Linked DNA regions of Homo sapiens: region 2 is linked to region 1. Evidence: fine-mapped expression QTL. A gene starts in region 1. The other region holds a variant in brackets. All regions are shown on one strand. Distances are from middle to middle. Region 1 holds the start of PDGFRL (platelet derived growth factor receptor like). Region 2 overlaps PDGFRL (platelet derived growth factor receptor like).

Region 1 (4,388 bases):
ACCAGCACTGGAAGGGCCTCCTGTGTAATCCACTCTCCTTAGTAGCTCCTGGCCACAACTCACAACACAACTCAAAACCAAAAACCATTCTTAATAGGTTTAGCCAAACGGTTACATAACTTAATGAAGCACTGTGTGTTCACTATTGTATCCATAAATAGTCCATACATTATAGATATGTGTGCTTTTATTTTTATCTTTATTTTCTTGAGATGGAGTCTCACTTTGTCGCCCAGCTGGAGTGCAGTGGTGCGATCTCGGCTCACTGCAACCTCTGCCTCCCAGGTTCAAGCAGTTCTCTGCCTCACCCTCCCAAGTAGCTGGGATTACACGTGCCCACCACCACGCCCGGCTAATTTTTATATTTTTAGTAGAGACGGGGTTTCACCATCTTGGCCAGGCTGGTCTTGAACTCCTGACCTTGTGATCCACCTGCCTTGGCCTCCCAAAGTGCTGGGATTACAGGCATGAGCCACTGTGCCCGGCCAGATGTGTGTACTTTTATAAACAAAATCTTCGTGCTATTATCACCTAAAATTTATGAACTATTTCTTACATTCAGTCTGTATTCCACTTTCTCCAATTGTCTCATAAATGCTTATTGTTTGTATGGATTACACTTAAAGAAAGGGTAAATTTAGTCAGATGTTTGTAATAAACTCACATGGGCTGGGTGAGATCCAGGAGGCAGAATGGAAGTCAATTTCTGAGCCTCTAAGACTGGCAAGTTGGGTATAAACAAAGGAATGGCTGATTTGAAATTATTTTGCCTGGCCATCTCCTGCCCTATTCAAAAAATGATACTACAAATTACATTTCTGCCTTTTCAGCGGTTGCACACAAGGGCCTGCCAGGAGCATTTTAATATTGCATTTTACAAACTGAACTCATGGCAACTTCTCTCTGGGCAGAGTTAAGTGTTACTCTCCCAGTAGAAGCTCTGCCTACGTTTTATTAAGCAAAGCTCTAGGCTGAAGGACCCTCATGCTCAACTTCAAGTACCACGACTATCTTGGATTTTGCAAACTACAATGCGGTATTTTTTTGGCAAATGTAGTTTCCTAGGAAAGAAAGGAACTGGTCAGGATGAACGAGTGGATAAAAATGTGAGCCAGGTCGAGCTGGCTCCAGCATGAAGTTGCATAACAGCAAAAGCTACTTTTCCACTAAATCTAAGCAAAAATTGTGTTGTAGCCCAGGAATTTCAAGAGAGGGTTGAGGACACCAGGAGGCACCCAGATGAAACATGTACTGTACAAATAACACCCATGGAGTGAATAGAGCAAACAAAACATTTAAATGCTAACAATAATATATAATACACACCACAGTAATACACACACCCAGACACACAGAAAAATAACACCAGACCCTGTGGTCACGGGTGTACACGACAGGGTGGACCCAGGACAGGTACACATTCAAAAACGCGCAGCGGTCATGGTCCCATAAGCTGTACCAAAAAAATGCATTTTCTTCACCATTTCCCATCCAATTAGATAAATATAATAAGCCGTGGGCTTTTGATTCGTTTTGAAGTTTCATACACTGACATTTTTGTTCGAAGATCTAGGCAGATCTTGCAGGATTCAAGCAAAAGGTGGTAGACGAAAACACGCCCAGAACTGCGAGGGGAGGGGGAGGTCACCTGGAACTCTGCAACCGAATCAGCGATTGCCGAGCTTAGGTGGCACTCGCTCTCAGCAGCAGAGGTCCCAGCCACGCCGCTGGGAGGTGGAAGCGATCCGAGGCTCCCGCCCCACCTCCCAGACCGACACGTTGACACTGGGGGCTGGACCAGGCGCTGGCTGGGGATGCTTGGTTCGCCCGGAGATGGGGACTTGGAGAGGTCCTGGTGGGCTCCTAAGGGTCGGGGTAGCTGCCACCACCCCTAGAGGGCTCTCCGGGCAGGCAAAGAGTGGGAGGAAAGGAGACCCCACCAGGAGGGGGCAGGTGCACCGGGCAGGCAGTGGCGCGGGGGCTGAGCCACCGAGGGCCGAACGTTAGACCAAGAGCTGGCAGGAGGGCGGCGGGGGCTTCGGGTCCCGGCTAAAGTCAGGGCACAAGCTAGGTGGCCCCGCGCCCAGAGTCACTCACCATCCTCCAGCGCTTCGTGCACCAGCAGAAGACCAAGCAGCAGCCAGACCTTCATCTCGGGAACCTCGGACCTCGGAGCGCAGGAGCGCGGCGGCTGCGCGGGGCGGGGACGCAGGGGAGGCGGCGGGCGAGGGGCGGGCTCCTGGGACGCCGAAGCGGGAGGATTCGGTTTCTTCAGGAGGAACAAGGTTTGGGGGAAAAAGTTGGGGAATTTTTTTTTTTTTTAGTTCTCTGTGTAATGTGACTTCTCCTGCCCCCTGGCGGAGCCGCGGTGCGCAGCACTTCTTCCCAGCGCGGGGAGGAAAGGCTAAGCGTGAAATGTACATTACAACAGCCATTCCTTGAATTTCTCCAACGCTTGGCGTTTTCACCAAGGTTATCAAGTTCAAGAAGGATCAGCGGGTGCTGATGGGGTCACTTTTAACCACGATTGTCCAAATGTTACCAGCGCCCGCCCCACCTCCTCAGGCAGAACCTGAGTGCTCTGTAAAAAGTGCTTCCTAAATTATTTCTGTTCATTCCATTTCTCTCCCCCACATGCACTCACTCACAGGACCGTTGCCCCGGGTTCTTGCTGCTCCTCTGTGTCTGGCCAGAGTTGGTCTCCGCACCCAGCCCTGTAACTGCTGGTGGGGGTGGGAGGACGGGTTCATTACAGGAATAACGTGGAAAATGAGACTGTGCAGACAACCCGGGCCTCTGGTGGTGAGGCAGGAGAACAGGGAATTAGGGTAAGCACGGGCTAGGGTATGAGCAGGAGAACAGCAGGTGCAGCCAGTTCGCAGAAGCAAAAGATCAGCAGGTGCAGACAGTTCTAGGCATGATTAGGCGGCACACAGGCCACATCCTCGCTCCTCTGATAACAAGGCAGAAGTTTCCACTTCAGCCTCGGACTGGTCGCAGGCCAGTCCTTCGTAAGGTGTAACCAGTTGGAGGCCTCTAAAGGGAACCCAAGGGTGTTGCCAAGTTCTTTTCGCTTTATAAAATCCCTGGGGAGCGTCAGGCTCTTGTGGCTTGCTGCAGCGCCCTCTGTGAATTGTCTTCTATAAATCTACGTTTTCCTTCCTCCCTTCTGTTGCTTTGTTTTTCCTTGCTTCTTTCTTTCGTTACTCCGTGCATTTCGTTCAATTTTTTGTTCAACAGGCCAAGAACCTGGACAACTCTATCAGGTAACAGTGGGGCAGAAGATACGGGCTTTCACAAGTCCCTCTGCAGAGAGCCATCCTGCGTTTCTGAGCTTGCAGACTCTCATGATCAAAGCAGTTTGCTAGCGGGGGAGATGCCTGTGTGTGTTCCCCCGGTGAGAAGCAGCCCATCTCATTGTAATCTTCAGCACCAGGCACTGCTATTAAAGGGAGCTCAATTCTAAATAACAGGAAAGGGACTTGTCCCTCAACACCCAACGAAAGAAGTGCTGCCATTTATAACAAACTAATGCTTCTCAGTCACTTCTGCAGGAGGAACCAAGAATTCTATATTCTGTTGCCAGCTCTAGCCGGAGCTTTGCCACTCGCTTGCCTTGCGATGCAGAGAGCAGTTGGCTGGGAATAAAGACCAGAGTTCAGATGCTGACACTGGCACAAACTCTCCATGCCTCTCAGAATTCACTTAACCTTCTGGGTTTTAGCATCTCTTGTTTATTAAGAAAGGGAACTAGGTGATTATTTCAACAGGAGTTTGCTATGTGATTAACATTACGGCTATGAAGGTTGAGACATCATCTCTCATGGCTACTTTTAAGGAGTGAACAAGCATTTAGACCACTGCAATGTGGTGTGTCAGGTTCTGGGGAGAATTCTGAGCAAAGGACTTGGAGCATGCACACAGGAGAGAGTAAATCTGCCTAAATTGCCCCACCGTGAGATTTCTTTTCATTCTGACCCCATGAATTGACTGCTTAACTCTCACTCCATGTTGGAGCCTGGGGTTGGGTCTAGATTCCTCCTCTCGGTCGCAGTATCCCCTCCATGCTGACTATGCATGTGCCAGGTCCACCTCTCTTGTGCCATTATTGTCAAGCTTCACTGCCCTGGCTCAGCTACATTTAGCCGAGAGTCGTCCCTCTTTCTCTTGCCGCTTAGAGGCTCTTCTTGGGGGGCTGAGGCGAGAGAGTCATTTGAGCCTGGGAAGCGAGGTTGCAGTGAGCTGAGATGGCACCACTGCACTCCAGCCTGGGCGACAGAGAGAGACTGTCTCAAAATAAATAAATAATAAATAAATAAATAAAAGCAAAGAAGAGAGGCCTCAGAGAATACCCATTCTTCTGCCACCTTGCTCTCAGATTTCTGCCA
Region 2 (4,388 bases), 32 kb before region 1:
AACCAAATGAATGACTTGGAGGAAATTTACAGATGATTACTTTCCAGATAGGCACTCACCATGTAGAGAAATGCATGGAAATAACAACGAAATCATCAATTCTCGTGTAATTTTTTTTGAGACGGAATCTCACTGTCCCCCAGGCTGGAGTGCAGTGGTGTGATCTCGGCTCACTGCAACCTCTGCCTCCTGGGTTCAAGGGAATCTCCCGCCTCAGCCTCCTGAGTACCTGAGACTATAGGCATGCGCCACCAGGCCCGGCTAATTTTTGTGTGTTTAGTAGTGACGGGGTTTCACCATACTGGCCAGGCTGCTCTTTAGCTCCCGAGCTCAAGGGATCCTGCCACCTTGGCCTCCCAAAGTGCTCGGATTACAGGTGTGAGCCACCGCGCCTGGCCCTTCTCATGTAAATTTGACAAGGTCATCTTTCAAACTTTGTGACCATATAACTCAGATGTATATGGGTTACTCACACTACAGGTTGAGAATCCCTTATCCAAAATGCTTGGAACCAGAGGGGTTTGGACTTCAGATTTTTCTCAGATTTTGGAGTATCTGCATCATACTTACTAGTTAAGCATCCCTAATTTGAAAATCTGAAATCTGAAATGCTCCAGTAAGCATTTCCTTTGAATGTCATATTGCTCAAAAAGTTTCAGATTTTGTAGCATTTCGGATTCCGGATTTATGGATTAGGATGCCCAACCCTTACTATAAATCTGGCAATTCTAATCTTACCATGTAGCAGAAGCTCATCAGCACTTCTCTGTGGGTAACATCAGAAAAACATGCCCCAGCTCTGCTCAGCTGAACGCTCACAGCCACATACTTGGGAAGAATCGGCCCTGGAAGATGAGTGAGGACAGAGGACAAAGGAGCAAGCCTCTGCCACCCTTGCTAGGAGAACAAGCTGTGAATTACTAATGGGCAGGCGTGCAGGCACAGTGAGTGTATTATGGCCAAGTCAGAATAGTGAATGCAACAGCCATGGGGCCTGGACCCATTTGCACCCAGCACAGTGAATTCACTGCGGGGAAATCCACCAAATCTCCCTCCTGCCAACGTTTTCAAGGTAATCGCTCATAACAATGCCACTTTGATGGTAAATCTTCTGAGTAACATCAGAAACCTAAATAAACAAACTGTTTTCTTGGTGTAGAGACTACAGAGATCTTGGGAATATGGCTTGATTTGAGTTTACTTTACTAAAAGCTGTGCAACATGAGCAAGTCTCTTAGGCTCTGTGGCTCAATCTAGTCACTTTTTAAAACGTAGGGTTCAAGCCACATCAGTGGTTCTCCAACCTGGCTGCATATCACAATCTTTTGGGGGAGGTTTGATGCTGTTCTCTTTGGCTCTTATTTTTTTTTTTTTTTTTTTTTTTTTTTTTTTACAGAGTCTCACTCTGTCACCCAGGCTGGAGTGCAGTGGCGTGATCTCAGCTCACTGCAACCTCCACCTCCCAGGTTCAAGCGATTCTCCTGCTTTAGCCTCCTGAGTAGCTAGGATTACAGGTGCACGCCACCACACCCAGGTAATTTTTTTTTTTTTCCAGACAGAGTCTCGCTCTGTCGCCCAGGTCGGAGTGCAGTGGTGCAATCTCAGCTCACTGCAACCTGCGCCTCCCAAGTAACTGGGACTACAGGTGCCCACTACCACACCTGGCTAAATTTTGTATTTTTAGTAGACATAGGGTTTCATCATGTTGGCCAGGCTGGTCTTGAATTCCCAAACTCAGGTGATCCACCAGCCTCAGCCACCCAAAGTGGTGGCATTACAGGAATGAGCCACTGTGCCCAGCTGGCTCCTATTTTATTATCACTATTTGAGACAGTCTTGCTCTGTCACCCAGGCTGGAGTGCAGCAGTGTGACCATGGCTCACTGTAGCCTCAACCACCCACCCCAGCCTCCCAAGCAGCCAGGACCACAGGGTGTAGCACTATATCCAGCTAAAACTTTTTGTTTGTTTTTAAGAGATGGGGTCTCACTATTTTGCTCAGGCTGGTCTCAAACTCCCGGGCTCAAGTGATCCTCCTGCCTCAGTCTGCCAAAGTGCTGGGATTACAGGCATGAGCTGCCTTGCCTGGCCCCTCCTTGGCTCTGCTTTGTACAAGTCTCTATCTTATCTTCAAGGCCTGGTCTCCAACAAT[C/T]AGGTCATCACTTACACAATGATTCCATTTGCCTCACCAACGCCTGCTCACAGCTGCCTTCTCTCCTTCCTATCAGCCGCTCCACACTCACACTTGACCACACACTGTCTTCTGTTGCTCTGTCCTTGTATCTGGTTTGTCTTTTATCTCACTAGTTCTTAAGCTGCTTGTCGTTGGGACTATTTCTGTCTTTTTTCCCCCCTCATAAGCATTCTGACTTAGTAGACTGCCTTTATATATACATTAAGCAAACGTTAATGCTATTTAGCGTGCATTCTCCTCAGCAGACCAACACTGAACTGAAGGCTGTGACACACTCGCTCTGGTCACCCCTCCGGCTCTTGTATGGGACAGTGCCTCCCTCTGCCTCCTTCCCCAGGATGCCTACCAGCTGATGTGATATATTGTGCCAATGCACGAGCCACCTGGGTAAATAAACGCATGAGGGCACGTTCAACATTGATTCACTTGTATCAATGTTGGTTGACTCACAGGGCCCCCAACCCCCTACCTTTTCCCAGCTATGAAGTCAAGTTCACAAACAACAGTGCTGTTACAGGGAAGGGTGAGCTGGTGCTTTCTGACCTCTGCTCCAATGTAACTGAGACACCAGATCTCATCTGGGATCTAGGCAGTGGGATGGAGAGAGAGGAGTGCTTTGGACAGTAGGATGTGGTCTGAAAGGCAGAGACCAGGGGCAAATCAGGATGAACTCCCAAAGGCAATCCAAGCAAAGTCTTTGAGCAGGAAGGCACCAAGCGAGGCAGGAGACAGGCCCCTGAGGCCCCAGGACAGAGTGGACAAGTTGGGAATGCAGGACGGGAAGTGACAAGAGAAGGTTCTGGGCGGACTCCCCAGGGCAGCAACTTAGCAGCTGCCCACCTGCAGCCGGCTGTGTGGGTGGGACGGAGCCGCCAAGGCAGCCAAGCCCGGACACTGGAGGCAAACCTCTGACATCTTCGTTTTGCTTTTTTATAAATGTGCCATTCTACACAATTATACACTAGTGGACATAAAATTTCCCATTTTACATCTTATCCTTTATTCCTCTTTTCTTGCTCCCTCCTTTGACATATCTTTCAAAGCTGTTTTATTTACATCTTCTATATTCAAATACTTGGCCAAAAATCATGCTACTAACACACCAGTGTTTACATTTGAGCATTAAATCCCAGACGTCACCCACATGTATACTTACTTGTTAAAGCAACATTTCACTCATAAAATACATGCAATCACTGGTACTATAAACAATGCTCCATCTTGCAAGATGCCCCAAAATTATCATCTAACATAGTTGGTGATATTCCTACAGTGTCTTTGGTTTAACGCACTAGCTTGACTGTATTGTCATTTTCTTACTGTATTTTAATTCTGTGCAACACATCTGGGATAATCAATCCTAGACTTACCAGAAATGCTCAAGAAATGAAATGTTTTGTTGAAAGAAACTTTTTTTGTTGTTTTTTTAAATACATATTTGGTGTAGGTAGAAACATTATTTTTAAGTAAGAGTTAGCAGAAGACGTTTTCCCCAAAACTATAGAACGTGCTTCAACCAATTTCCCCTACTCTAATGACTAGATCGACGAGCAATGGGTGATCTAGAGAACCTTGGGACCATTAGTATGAGCATCAGTGAGCCCTCCACAGTGCTATGGACACAAAGAGTTTGTAGGGGATTGAGACACACGTCTAAAACGTTTCTTAAAACGAAACTCGCAGGCCAAGGCAGGTGGATCACTTGAGGTCAGGAGTTTGAGACCAGCCTGGCCAACATGAGGAAACCCCATTTCCAATCAAAATACAAAAATTAGCAGGGCATGGTGGCATGCACCTGTAATCCCAGCTACTCAGGAGCCTGAGGCAGGAGAATTGCTTGAACCTGGGAGGTGGAGGTTGCAGTGAGCCCAGATTGCACCACTGCACTCCAGCCTGGGTGACAGAGCAAGACTCCGTCTCAAAAAAAAAAAAAAAAAAACAAAAAAACAAAAAACGAAAAACTGGCTGTTTCTTATGATTTACCTCCTTTGGGTACAGTATGGTGAACAGAAATAGCTCACCGATATTTAGGTGGCTTACTATGTGTGCCAAGAGGTTTACACGCATGACCTCATTCTATCCTGAGAACAGCACAATGAGCCTCGTTCTATTATTACCTGCCCCCCACCCTTGTCCTGAACGGAACATAGCTGTGTTTTTCTGCAAGCTGAACGCTCTCAGAACATTGAGTACAC

The links. PIP is the estimated chance that this variant, and not a neighbour inherited with it, causes the effect.
Region 2: its variant is fine-mapped to the expression of PDGFRL in fibroblasts (GTEx, PIP 0.98).

The regions. Positions count from the first base shown.
Region 1 is chr8:17,575,017-17,579,404 of GRCh38, reverse strand. PDGFRL (platelet derived growth factor receptor like) reads right to left here and starts at 2,189. Exons shown (of 6, transcript NM_001372073.1): 1 at 2,098-2,189. The coding sequence starts at 2,152. RefSeq lists silencers at 1,784-1,833, 1,924-1,983.
Region 2 is chr8:17,606,639-17,611,026 of GRCh38, reverse strand. All of the region lies in intron 2 of PDGFRL (platelet derived growth factor receptor like), which reads right to left. The region is part of intron 1 of LOC107986919 (a long non-coding RNA gene); the gene reads left to right. Among named protein-coding and RNA genes, the nearest start is that of PDGFRL, 32 kb to the right of the region's middle. The variant C/T (reference allele first, on the strand shown) is at 2,152.